Linked DNA regions of Homo sapiens. The protein of the gene in region 2 purifies or fractionates together with the protein of the main gene of each other region. This does not show direct contact. Each region holds a gene or a part of one and is shown on either strand. Other genes may lie near its edges. The genes, in order: PC, CDH2 and SPTBN1.

Region 1 (3,654 bases), on a different chromosome or scaffold from region 2:
GATCACAAGTGCCTGGAAGATAAGAAACAGGTGACATTTTGCGAATGATCTGGGGCGGGTGCAGGGGTTTGGGGGCTGGATATTAGAAAAGGCCTCTCTGAGGAGGGGACACAGAAGCTGGGACCTGGATGGGGAGAAGTCGGCCACGCACAGATCCGCAGAGAAAGCTCCAGGAAGAAGGGATAGCAATTGTGAAGTTCTCAGGAAGAACAGGCTTGGTGCTGTCCTGAGAGAGGGAAGTGTGAGCCCACGGCCTGAGGTGGGGCTGCAGCCACAGACAGGGCCCAGTGGTTGAGGCCTCCCTTCAGCCATGGACAGGACAGGAGGGACATGATCGATGCACAGTGGAAAGGATCTCTCTGGACTGGCGAGCAGCAGGGGCTGACAGACGACGCATGTCTGGGGCAATTCAGAGGCTGAGCTGAGAGACGCGGAGCCTCTGACAGGGGGAAGCTATGGGGGTCGGGGTGGGGCTTAGGAAACATCTGGGCTATGACAGACAAGATTCGTCGAGAGACCCCCCATAGAAAGCAAGGTAGAGGAAGAAATCCTGTATGGGTGGGTGGAGATGACTTTTCCTGCTATAAGAAGGGCAAGACAGAAAAGGCAGGGCTGGGAGTGAGGCAAGCTCACAGAGGGGGAAGAGCAGGGACAAGAACCTGGGCAGCATCACAGGGGCGGTGGTGTCTGAAGCCAGGGAGAGAACAGCCTGGGAGAAGTGGGTCAGGCCTGCGTCTTCAGGCCCACTGGAGTTGAGTCTGGCCGAGGAGGAAGAGCCAAGAAGGAGCCCAGGGGGGATGCCTGGAGGAGGGAGGGACGCACGGGTCGCTGGGCAGAAGCGAGCGGCTCTCAGGAGGATGGGGCGCGAGTTGGGCAGAGCATGACTCCCAGAGGCAGGGTAAGATGGGGGCTGGGAAGGGGCCACTGCGGTGACCAGGAGGCACCCAGGTCACACCCGGCTATGGTGAACGTGGGTAGAGTAACCTTGCTGGACTCTGGGCTCCTCCTCTTTCTAAAATATACCTTGTCCTTATTCATTGCACAGTGGAGAAACCTGGCGGACACCACGCTGACCGAGAGATGAAGGTTAATATCACTAGCACCGAAGGGATACCACACACCTCCTGATGGGGTTCCCGCTGCCGTGCACGGCCTGAATTTAATCAGGAGAAAGCAAGGGGCAAACTCAAATTCAGGGAAATTCCACAGAATAACTGGCTTGGACTCTTCAAACATGTCAAAGGTCGTGAGAGACAAAGACGCAAGAACGGTTTCAGATGAAAGGAGACCAAAGCAACAATGGTGAGAGCCACACACGATCCTGGATTGGATCCGGGTTTCTATTGCTAAGAGGACATCAGGGGACAACGATACAATTTAAATAAGGTCTGCAGGTTTGAAAGAGGATTGCGTTGATATCAATTTCCTGATCTTGATCAGTGGACTGTGGTTATGTTAGAGAACAGCCTCATTCTTAGGGAAAAACACTGAGGAACTCAAGGGTCCACGAGCACCACATCTGCAATTTACACCCACTCACATGGTTCAGGGAAAAACGGGAACAATGAAGCAAATGCTAGTATTGGGGGAACTGGGGTCAGGGGTACGAGAATTCTTTGTCTTACTCTTGCAACTTTACTGAAAGTCTGAAATCATTTCAAATTGACAAGTGAAAAGAACCATACCCACCGCTAATGCCGCTGGAGGAGATAACCTTAGGGAGTGCATGCCCCAGCACCTGCTGCTCAAGAGGTGCCGGGAGCACCAGCGAGGAGCTCAGGTGTGGAGACACCCTGCTCAGAGCAGGATGAACGTCAGACGTTATCACCCTGCTATCTCCCACATGCAGATCTACAATCCTCTAAGCCCTGCTCCAGGCGAGTTATCGGATGCTGCCCACTAGGAGGACAGGTCTTTCCCAGCTGGGAGCAGGCGGCACTGGCATCAGAGAGCAGGTGTGGGGTGTAAATCTCACCCTCCTCCTGGGCACCAAATGTCTACTCTGCTGAGCGCTGGGAAAGGCCATGTCAAAAGAGCTCAAGTTACCACATAGGGCAAAGTCAGGAAGAGGCGAGGGGAGCCTTCGGGACAAGCACAGCAACAAGACAGCAAACACAAGTGGCTCTTGAACCCACGAGAAAGCAAGAGATTCAAAATACAACCATGAGGTGCCACTCCTGCCTGGGAGCTTTGTAAATGCAGTGCTGAGCGCCAGGAAGGCCTTCAGGAGGCGGCCCGCAGGCACTGCTGAGCATCACGGCAGCTTCTCCGGGAAGCTGTTTGCAAAACTTATCAAGAGCCTTTAAGGTATTTATGCCCGGCCAGGCGCGGTGGCTCACGCCTGTAATCCCAGCACTTTGGGACGCTGAGACAGGCGGATCATTTGAGGTCACGAATTCAAAACCACCCTGGCCAACATGGTGAATCCCCGTCTCTACTAAAAGTACAAAAATTAGCCCAGCATGATAGTGGGCGCCTATAGTCCCAGCTACTCGGGAGGCTGAGGCAGGAGAGTTGCTTGAGCCTGTGAGGCGGAAGTTGCAGTGAGCCGAGATCGCGCCATTGCATTCCAGCCTGGGTGATAGAGCGAGACTCCATCTCAAAAACAAAACAAAACAAAAAAAGCCGGGCACAGTGGCTGACGCCTGTAATCCCAACACTTTGGGAGGCCAGGGCGGGTGCATCACGAGGTCAGGAGATGGAGACCATCCTGGCTAACACGGTGAAACCCCATCTCTACTAAAAAATACAAAAAAATTAGCTAGGCATGGTGGCGGGTTATGCCCCTGAGCCCAGTCATTACTATTCCAGAAATCCAACCCCAGGAAATATTCCAAAATGGGAACCAAGATGTACGCAGAAAGATGTTCAAAGCAGCATTATTTACAACAGAAAATCATGAGAAGCAATTTAAAGATTCCACACCCTGGCTCCCACAGACATTATGTAACCATTAACAATAATGTGTTTGCACAGGTTTTGATGACATGGGAAATGCTTGTGATGTAATGTGAAGCCAAGAAAATTTAATGGTAAACAACATGATCTCATGAAGTTTTTTTAAAGGAATGGCAACAACTGTAGGACTGCTTGCATGCCACCCTCCTCACTCCCACGTGCTATGGAATTGCTGTAGAGTTGTGTTTTCCTCCTTCTTTATGCTTTTCTATATTTCCATATGGAAAATTTCCATATTTTCTCCATTGGGGATGCGTTATTTATAATTAGAAAAAAAAGAAGAAATATACAGAAGGGACAGGAAGAGCTCCGCAGGAAAAGGCGAAGGGAGCTCCTGCTACACCGACTCCTTGGGTGGGAGGACTTGGCTATGTGTCTCCCAGGAGCCTAGCACCCTCCCCCTCCTCACCTGCTGGCCTGCCTATAGGTGAGCAGCCTCACAGCTGGCAGCAGCCCACTGGCACCGAGATTCTCAAACCTCCAGGGCAGTTTCAAGCTTTTTCCAGGGAGCCCCAGTCCTTTCCTCCCACCTGGGTGGGTTTACCCTGCGACCACAGGGGCACTTACCCGTGGTTTGTGGGTAAACAGGTCATTTTTGTTGCTCTCCTCCCCTGTCCACACCACACTCACTCCCCACTGCCTTTTCCATGCAAAGAAAGAGATTTCCTCAGAAGATATGCCAAAGGCCGGTCACCT
Region 2 (3,654 bases):
CGGGTGCCTACCATCATGCCCAGCTAATTTTTTGTATTTTTAGTAGAGACAGGGTTTCACCGTGTTAGGCAGGATGGTCTTGATCTCCTAACCTCGTGATCCACCTGCCTTGGCCTCCCAAAGTGCTGGGATTACAGGCATCAGCCACCATGCCTGGCCCTCTGTAGCTTTTTTAGGTTCATGACTATTCCCAAAACATGAGGTGGCTTAACAATCGCTTTCTTGAACCTGAACTAGTAGAAAATGTTTTGTTCCCTACAGCAGGGGTTATTAAATTTAGCTTAACATTATGCCATAATTTCTTAAATCATTTCTTACTCATGGACTTTTAGAGATCAAATAATCCAATCTTTCGTAATCATAAGCAATGCTTCAATAAATATCTTCGTATATGTATCTATACCATGTGTTTGTCATAAATACATGCATACCTGTACCAAAAAAAAAAAAAAACTAGAGGAGGCCAGGAGCAGTGGCTCGTGTCTGTAATCCGAGCACTTCGGGAGGCCGAGGCAGGCGGATTCCCTGAAGTCAGGAGTTCGAGTCGAGACCAGCCTTGCCAACATGGTGAAACCTCATCTCTACTAAATATACAAAAATTAGCTGGGCATGGTGGCACACGTAATCCCAGCTACACAGGAGGCTGAGGCAGGAGAATTCCTTGAGCCCGGGAGACGGAGGATGTAGTTGAGCCAAGACTGTGCCACTGCACTCCAGCCTGACAGAGCGAGACTGTCTTTAAAAAAAAAAAAAAAAAAGCTAGAGGAAAACTTGACAAAGGGCTAGAGCTGTATTTTTAATGCTGACCCACTTATATTTTTAATGTTGACCCCCTATCACTCAATTCAATGGCTCTCCTGAAGGCTATCTTCTCTCAAAGAAACATGAGCTCATAAAACTAATAAAAAAAATTTTCTCAGTAATATTACACTTACCTTCATTTTAAGCCTAAAAATAATTTTTATTCTCAGTAATATTACACTTACCTTCCTTTAAGCCTAAACCCCTCCCCAAAATTGTTTACTTTTACTGGCAAAGGTAGCACAGCCAATGAAGAAAATTTTAAGTTTAAAATTCAGGCATATAAAAAATATAGATGACTTTAAACCTATCACGATAAACTACGGTTAATAAATCTTCAAAACTCACATTCTATCACTCCAAGTATCTGAAAATTCTTACATTTTCGGCTGAAAAAAGCCTTTCCACAACCTTCGAAAAGGAGATGTGTTTGAGATATTTTTTAAGTAGCCCCAGGAATCATGCAACTGGACAGTCTCTTAGAGATCAACTAATCCAACTAGGCCCAAGATTTTATTGTTGAGGAAAATGAGGTCACGGGACTTTAAGAGAGTAGACTACATCTGGACGAAATCAGAACCCCATGCTTCCTGCCCTGGACACTAGCTCTTGCCCTTGACACTACACAAGGGCATTCACTTACACAGATCAGTTATTATACTGTTGGTGCCTAAACCACCTTTCATGACATAAAGTAATCAATCAATTATTGATTGACACTTCATATCAGACTGTACTCAGTGTTGCAGGAGACTCATATGTATATAGCAGTCCTCAACATACATTTGGGGTGTGTGTGTGTGTGTGTGTGTGTGTGCGTGTGTGTATGCAATCCAAGGGCTTGGGGGCTGTAAGTACAGTTGGAAGCAGATGAGGAAGTGCACTGAGTACCAAAGAGTGAGCGACAAGGAATAAAAATCTAAGCAGAATTTAATCTAAATTTTCCTTAAAGAGACTATTATAACATAAATCATAATGTTTAAATCTACATCTTTCAAAAAGTCCCATTTAGCTTGTGAATTCACCTTGTTCTGCCTACTTTAGACCTATCACTTCATACATGCAGAAGATATAGCTCTTACTAAAACATTAATATGTATATACCTCTTCCTTGGCATGGATAAGGTTGTTTAATTAAAACTTACATGTATTTAGTTAAATACAAAGACTAGCATCTGCTCAAATTAACTGATGTCTTTTTCTGAAAAATTAAAATAAAAATAAAATTTTAGTAGAAAAAAACAGAAATGTGAGACACAGTGATTTGTTGGTACCAATTATGTTTCAACTTAAAACTCTTAACTTGAAAATACTTAGGTTCTAGCAAGTATACTGCTGTCAGAGCGAAATACTTATTCAGATGACAAAATCCAAATTTAAAAATCTATCACATTTTTAAATGGCTGACAAAAACCACCACCAAATCTAAGCAGTGCCTAAACTTGATTACTTTTTTGTATTTGAGCCAAAAGAACAAATCTGAATGTTAACCTGGGAAAAATGGTAGTGTATATACGAACACAACACTTCTTAAATAACAGCTCTGATTTTTAAAAATCACTCTTCTAACTTCATAATAACCCCTTGAAAAGAAGATGGGGATTTTAATCACTTAGGATTAAAAAAAATAGGATTTAAAGCAAGATTAACTGTTGCTTTAAGTCTTGACATTTCCCTATTAATAACCCTAAAGCTTAATGAGGCACAACAGATTTAAGAATTGAAATTGTTAATGAAAAAGAAAATTAAGGACAGTTTGGTGCTCTATACCATCATGAAAATAATCTGCTCCAGAAAGATTTTAGTCTCTACATGTAAAAAGCAAGAAATATCTAAAAAGTATTTCCTTGTAAAATCTCAGTCTGAACTTTTAGAAGGTTAGGGCAGACTTTGATGAAAGTATAAAAGTCAGAAAGTACCTATGGTTTAATATATAGTGTTTTAAAAACAAGTGAGGATACATAAAATACTGTTTTTCAAATTACACCTAGTATGTTTGTAACCTTTCACCTATTAGTAATGACCGCATGCCTCAAGTTAAGAAAAGCAAAGAAATATACATAACTGTGTCTAGTAAGTAAACTCTGAACACCAAGTTAACTCTTCTTATTTTCACAAGAACTTATGTTTCAAAAGCACATGAAAATCAAATAAATACTGAGAATAAACACGATTTACACTTAAAATCACTGCTGAATCCTTGCCACATTCTAGAACAAAGCTGCTTCTTTTTATGTATACTTCATATGTTGAATATTAATTTCTTTAAAATCTGTACCTAATAGGTGAAAAACACATAAGGTTTATCCATCGTTTTTCCAAGGTCCTCACGCAGGGTTGAAACCAGGATCTGTTAAGTCTTAGAAATGAATTTCTATGAACATTAAAATACTGTCCTAGATGCCCCATAACCCATACAAACGTATTTAAATTAGAACAATGGGGTTATGCAATTAAGATGTGAACTAGAAAAACAACACAGGTTTCTAATATATTAATTAACTAGGTCAATGGTAAAAGCAACATTGATTTTTTTTCTTAACAATAAACCTATGTAAAGATTTGAAAGTCACTTGTATTATTTAAAAGGAAAGCTAGTTATAACTTTGTGATATAATATTTTATACTTTTATCAGGTAAGCTGAATGCTCAAATTCGGATTTTTTAATATAAAAAAGGCTAACATCTTAAAATAAGACTAAAGAAAATCTTGATGTTGAACATCATAACATGCAAGATTGACTAGAATTATGTAAATCTACATAACAAGACTAACTAAACTAGTAATTTCTCTAAGTAAAATAAGGTACACAGACACTTCAGTTAACAATTCAAGGCACAGAGTCCTTTGAA
Region 3 (3,654 bases), on a different chromosome or scaffold from region 2:
CCTCCGGTCTCAGATCTAATTTTATAAAATGGAAGACTTAGATGAAATCATAGTGGGGGTTAAAACATGGCACATGCCATCACTCGCTTCTGTTCCTGGCAGACATCGAAAATCAGTAATGGTACTCTTTTTCCACTGAGCTGAGATAGTCTCAGTCATATTCTCGACATGGTGTTCTAGGCAGTAACTACCACTCGATTAAATCTGGCATTCAGTTTTTAAGCTCCTGTACACTTCTAAATTCTGTGATTATAAGATACTTGAGAAACTCATCACCTTGGCAGTGTTCAGAATACAGTGAGACTGGAAGAAACTAGAAGCAAGGAGACAGGAGAGAGGTGACTGGGGGTCCAGAAGTAAAGGGAGCAAGTTACAGTGGTGGCCAAGGGAACAAGGAGAGGAGAGATGGGAAAATGGTTGTGAAGGCCCAATCCTATGCGAAGCTATTTGTAGGGTAAATGGATGGCAGGATGGATGGGAGGTGGACCTAGTGGGTGACGAGCTAAGCTAAGGTGATAAAGATTTCAAATTTGAATAATGACAATGAGCATGTTTGGTGATGATGACAAATAGACAAGTCAAGTGCATGATTGGATATTTGATTGGGAAGAGTATCAGTTTTGCTTTAAACATGTTTGAGTTTGAGGTTCCAGCACAATCCTCAGTGGAGCTGGAGAGAGGTCATGGCTAGAGAGGCTGATGGGAGGCTTTGGATGGAGGGGCCCTGGGCCCCAGGCTTCAGGCTCTTTACACAACCCACCCACCTCGCTCACACGCTAAGTGACCTTGGGCAAACTGCCTAGACTTCTTTGTGTCCCTCAACATCTTCATCTGTAAAATAGTCGTAATGAGAGTATCTACCACATAGGATTATTAAAGCCAAATGAGGTAATTCAGCGCTTATCACAATAAATTTTAATGATTATAAAATGTGGAATTTTTGCTTAGTTTGACTTAATATTATGCTTTCTTTCAAATAAACAGTTTGATTTGTTTAGAAAAGGTATATTCTAGCAAATAACAATCATTTAGATAAATAATGCTAAGTTCCATCTGTATTAAACCTGTTCCTATACATCATGTCAAAATAATAGGAAAGGAAAATCTGATTTATATATATGTATTTTTTAAACAAACAATAAAATGCTAAAGCCTTAGTAGCTAAGGAAATGATATGAGCAGATAGTTTATAAAAGAAGAAATCAAGGAGGTCGATAACTGTAAGTTCAAACTCACCAGTGTATGAAATACAGACTAAATTAATTAATTTTTCCACTTAATGGATAGATATTATGCTCTGGGCTGCTGTGAGATGGGAGCTCTGCATCACCTGTTGAGAGCATATTTTGATTAATACAAACTTAGGGGAAAACAGTTGGGTTATATATATGTAACAGAAGCCTTAAATGCTTATACCTCTTGAACTGAAATCTCACATGTAGCTTGGTAACCTACAAAAACAATTAAAAATAAGGACAAGTTTTTAAACAAGGATTTTCTTGGCAACATTAATAGAGAAAAGGGGAAATGTTTTTTAATGGAACATAATCAAATAAATTATGGCGCAACTGTAGGGTGGAATTCAATGTAGTGCTTAAAATAATGGTTTGGAAGAATATTACTGAGATGGGAAGATGCCGGTAATACAGGGGTTAGTGGAAATATCTGGATGCAAAATTGTATAGTGTACTATAATCCTGGTTTTACTGTATTAAGTAAAAGACTGGAAGGAAATACATTAAAATGTTAATGGTTTGCTTTGGATGGTAGGTTGATGGGTGATTTCCTCTCTTGTATGAAAGGAAATTCCCATGACTTAATGTTTCTCTTTTTGAGTTTTGAAATATTTCACGGTAGAGAAGAATGCAGTAAATAATATAATAGATGACCATGAGGACCATTTGTTTTGGTTTGTTTGAGGAACTTTTTTTTGTTTTATTTTGTTTTCTTTTGTTTTGTTTGAGACAGAGTCTTATTCTGTTGCCCAGGCTGGAGTGCATTGGCACGAACATGGCTCACTGCAGCCTTGACCTCCTGGGTTCAAGCAGTCCTCCTGCCTCAGCCTCCCAAGTAGTTGCAGGCGTGTACCACCACACAGGGCTAATTTTTAAACCTTAAATTTTTTTATAGAGACGAGGTTTCACCGTGTTGCCCAGGCTGGTCTTCAACTCCTGAACTCAAGTGATCTGCCTGCCTTGGCCTCCCAAAGTGTTGGGATTACAAATGTGAGCCACCGTGCCCAGCCTTGGGCACCATTTTTTAATAATCAAAAAAGCAATCAACACTTTAAAAATTCTAATTTTTAAAAAGGAAAGAAAAAAGTAAATCTGTCCAATTGTAGATCATTATTAAGAAATAGTTTTAAATCCAGCGATTGTTATATCTGTCCTTCTTTGCAGTTTTCTAAGAGCAATGATACAGTGTGTAAGTTAGCATCTTAAGGGTATAGGTGTGAGATAAATTAGTGTATTCAAATGTATTAATTCTCTACACTAACCTAGGCAGCTTGAAAAGAGCAGAGGACCAGGGTTCTTTGGTATTTCCAGTCTCCACACTTGAGTGCAGAGCAGTGGAATTCCATGACGTGCATGTTCTCACTCGTGGAAACCTAAACACTGCTACTGGAGCTAGTTTGTAACCATTAGACCATCAGGTTTCAGTGGAATTGGTCAGAAATGAAGGTAAAATTCCAAGTGAACATTTTAAAATAAAAATCACTTCAGATTTAGATTTACTTTCAGTGAATGGTATCTCAGCATCTGGGAATATTGTAGGCTAAGATTGAGAGGAACTAATTTTAATATTCTTCGTTTTTTGTATGAAAAGAAATTCCTGTGCAATGTTATATTTTTGTATATATACATATATGATGCATACATATCATGTTTATCTCATATATATATATATATATATATATATATATCTCACACATGGGAGAGAGAGGTGTGTGTTTGATTGAGTAATCTCTACCACGAAGGGAGGCACATATTTTAAAACATTTTAAATGGGGAATTTTATAGAGACAGTATTTTGAAAAGGAGTCCCATGAATGAGTCAAGTTGTCCTTAGCCAGTGGAGGAAATGTTTGGGAGGGAATAGTACTTTCTATTTTATGGTCCAAGTCTCTAAGTGTGTTGGTACTTTGTGAAATGTAGCTTATAAAAATTAATGAATTTCCATTAATTTTGTATTTTTTCTGCCATCAGCTTTAACTGAGTGGTTGTTTGAAGAAGCTTTCAGGATTAATTGTGCTTTGACATATAAAAATAAGATGTTATCAAGATTGCTTTAAAACTGACCCTTGTTTATAGGAGTCATACGTCCATTCTTAAGAAACTCTCAACTGTGACAGTAAACATCTGAGTGATTTTTAGAACCATTTTAATATCTCTGCTCTAGAATCGAGAATGCCCTGTTAGTTCTGATTTTTAATATACAAATTTGAAGCCACTAGTTAGGCAGTAAAATATGTATTAGAACATAACTATAGATTTTTACCCAATAGATCAATTAGTATGAAATTTAGGATGATATATAAGTACAACAGAATTTATTCCTTTGAGGTATGTATTTTCAAAGTGTAATTTGTGTAATTAAGTATGTTTATTCTTCGAGACCATCCTGGCTAACACGGTGAAACCCCGTCTCTACTAA

What was found.
Region 1: the proteins of CDH2 (region 2) and PC fractionate together in Homo sapiens (co-fractionation; one large-scale study listed by BioGRID). This does not show direct contact.
Region 3: the proteins of CDH2 (region 2) and SPTBN1 fractionate together in Homo sapiens (co-fractionation; one large-scale study listed by BioGRID). This does not show direct contact.

Annotation. Positions count from the first base shown.
Region 1 is NC_000011.10:66,874,785-66,878,438, forward strand, and holds part of PC (pyruvate carboxylase, mitochondrial precursor), read right to left. Parts: exon of another isoform or gene 3,526-3,654; intron 1-3,525. UniProt on the Homo sapiens protein: Pyruvate carboxylase catalyzes a 2-step reaction, involving the ATP-dependent carboxylation of the covalently attached biotin in the first step and the transfer of the carboxyl group to pyruvate in the second.
Region 2 is NC_000018.10:28,170,486-28,174,139, forward strand, and holds part of CDH2 (cadherin-2 isoform 1 preproprotein), read right to left. Parts: intron 1-3,654. UniProt on the Homo sapiens protein: Calcium-dependent cell adhesion protein; preferentially mediates homotypic cell-cell adhesion by dimerization with a CDH2 chain from another cell. Cadherins may thus contribute to the sorting of heterogeneous cell types.
Region 3 is NC_000002.12:54,462,747-54,466,400, forward strand, and holds part of SPTBN1 (spectrin beta chain, non-erythrocytic 1), read left to right. Parts: intron 1-3,654. UniProt on the Homo sapiens protein: Fodrin, which seems to be involved in secretion, interacts with calmodulin in a calcium-dependent manner and is thus candidate for the calcium-dependent movement of the cytoskeleton at the membrane.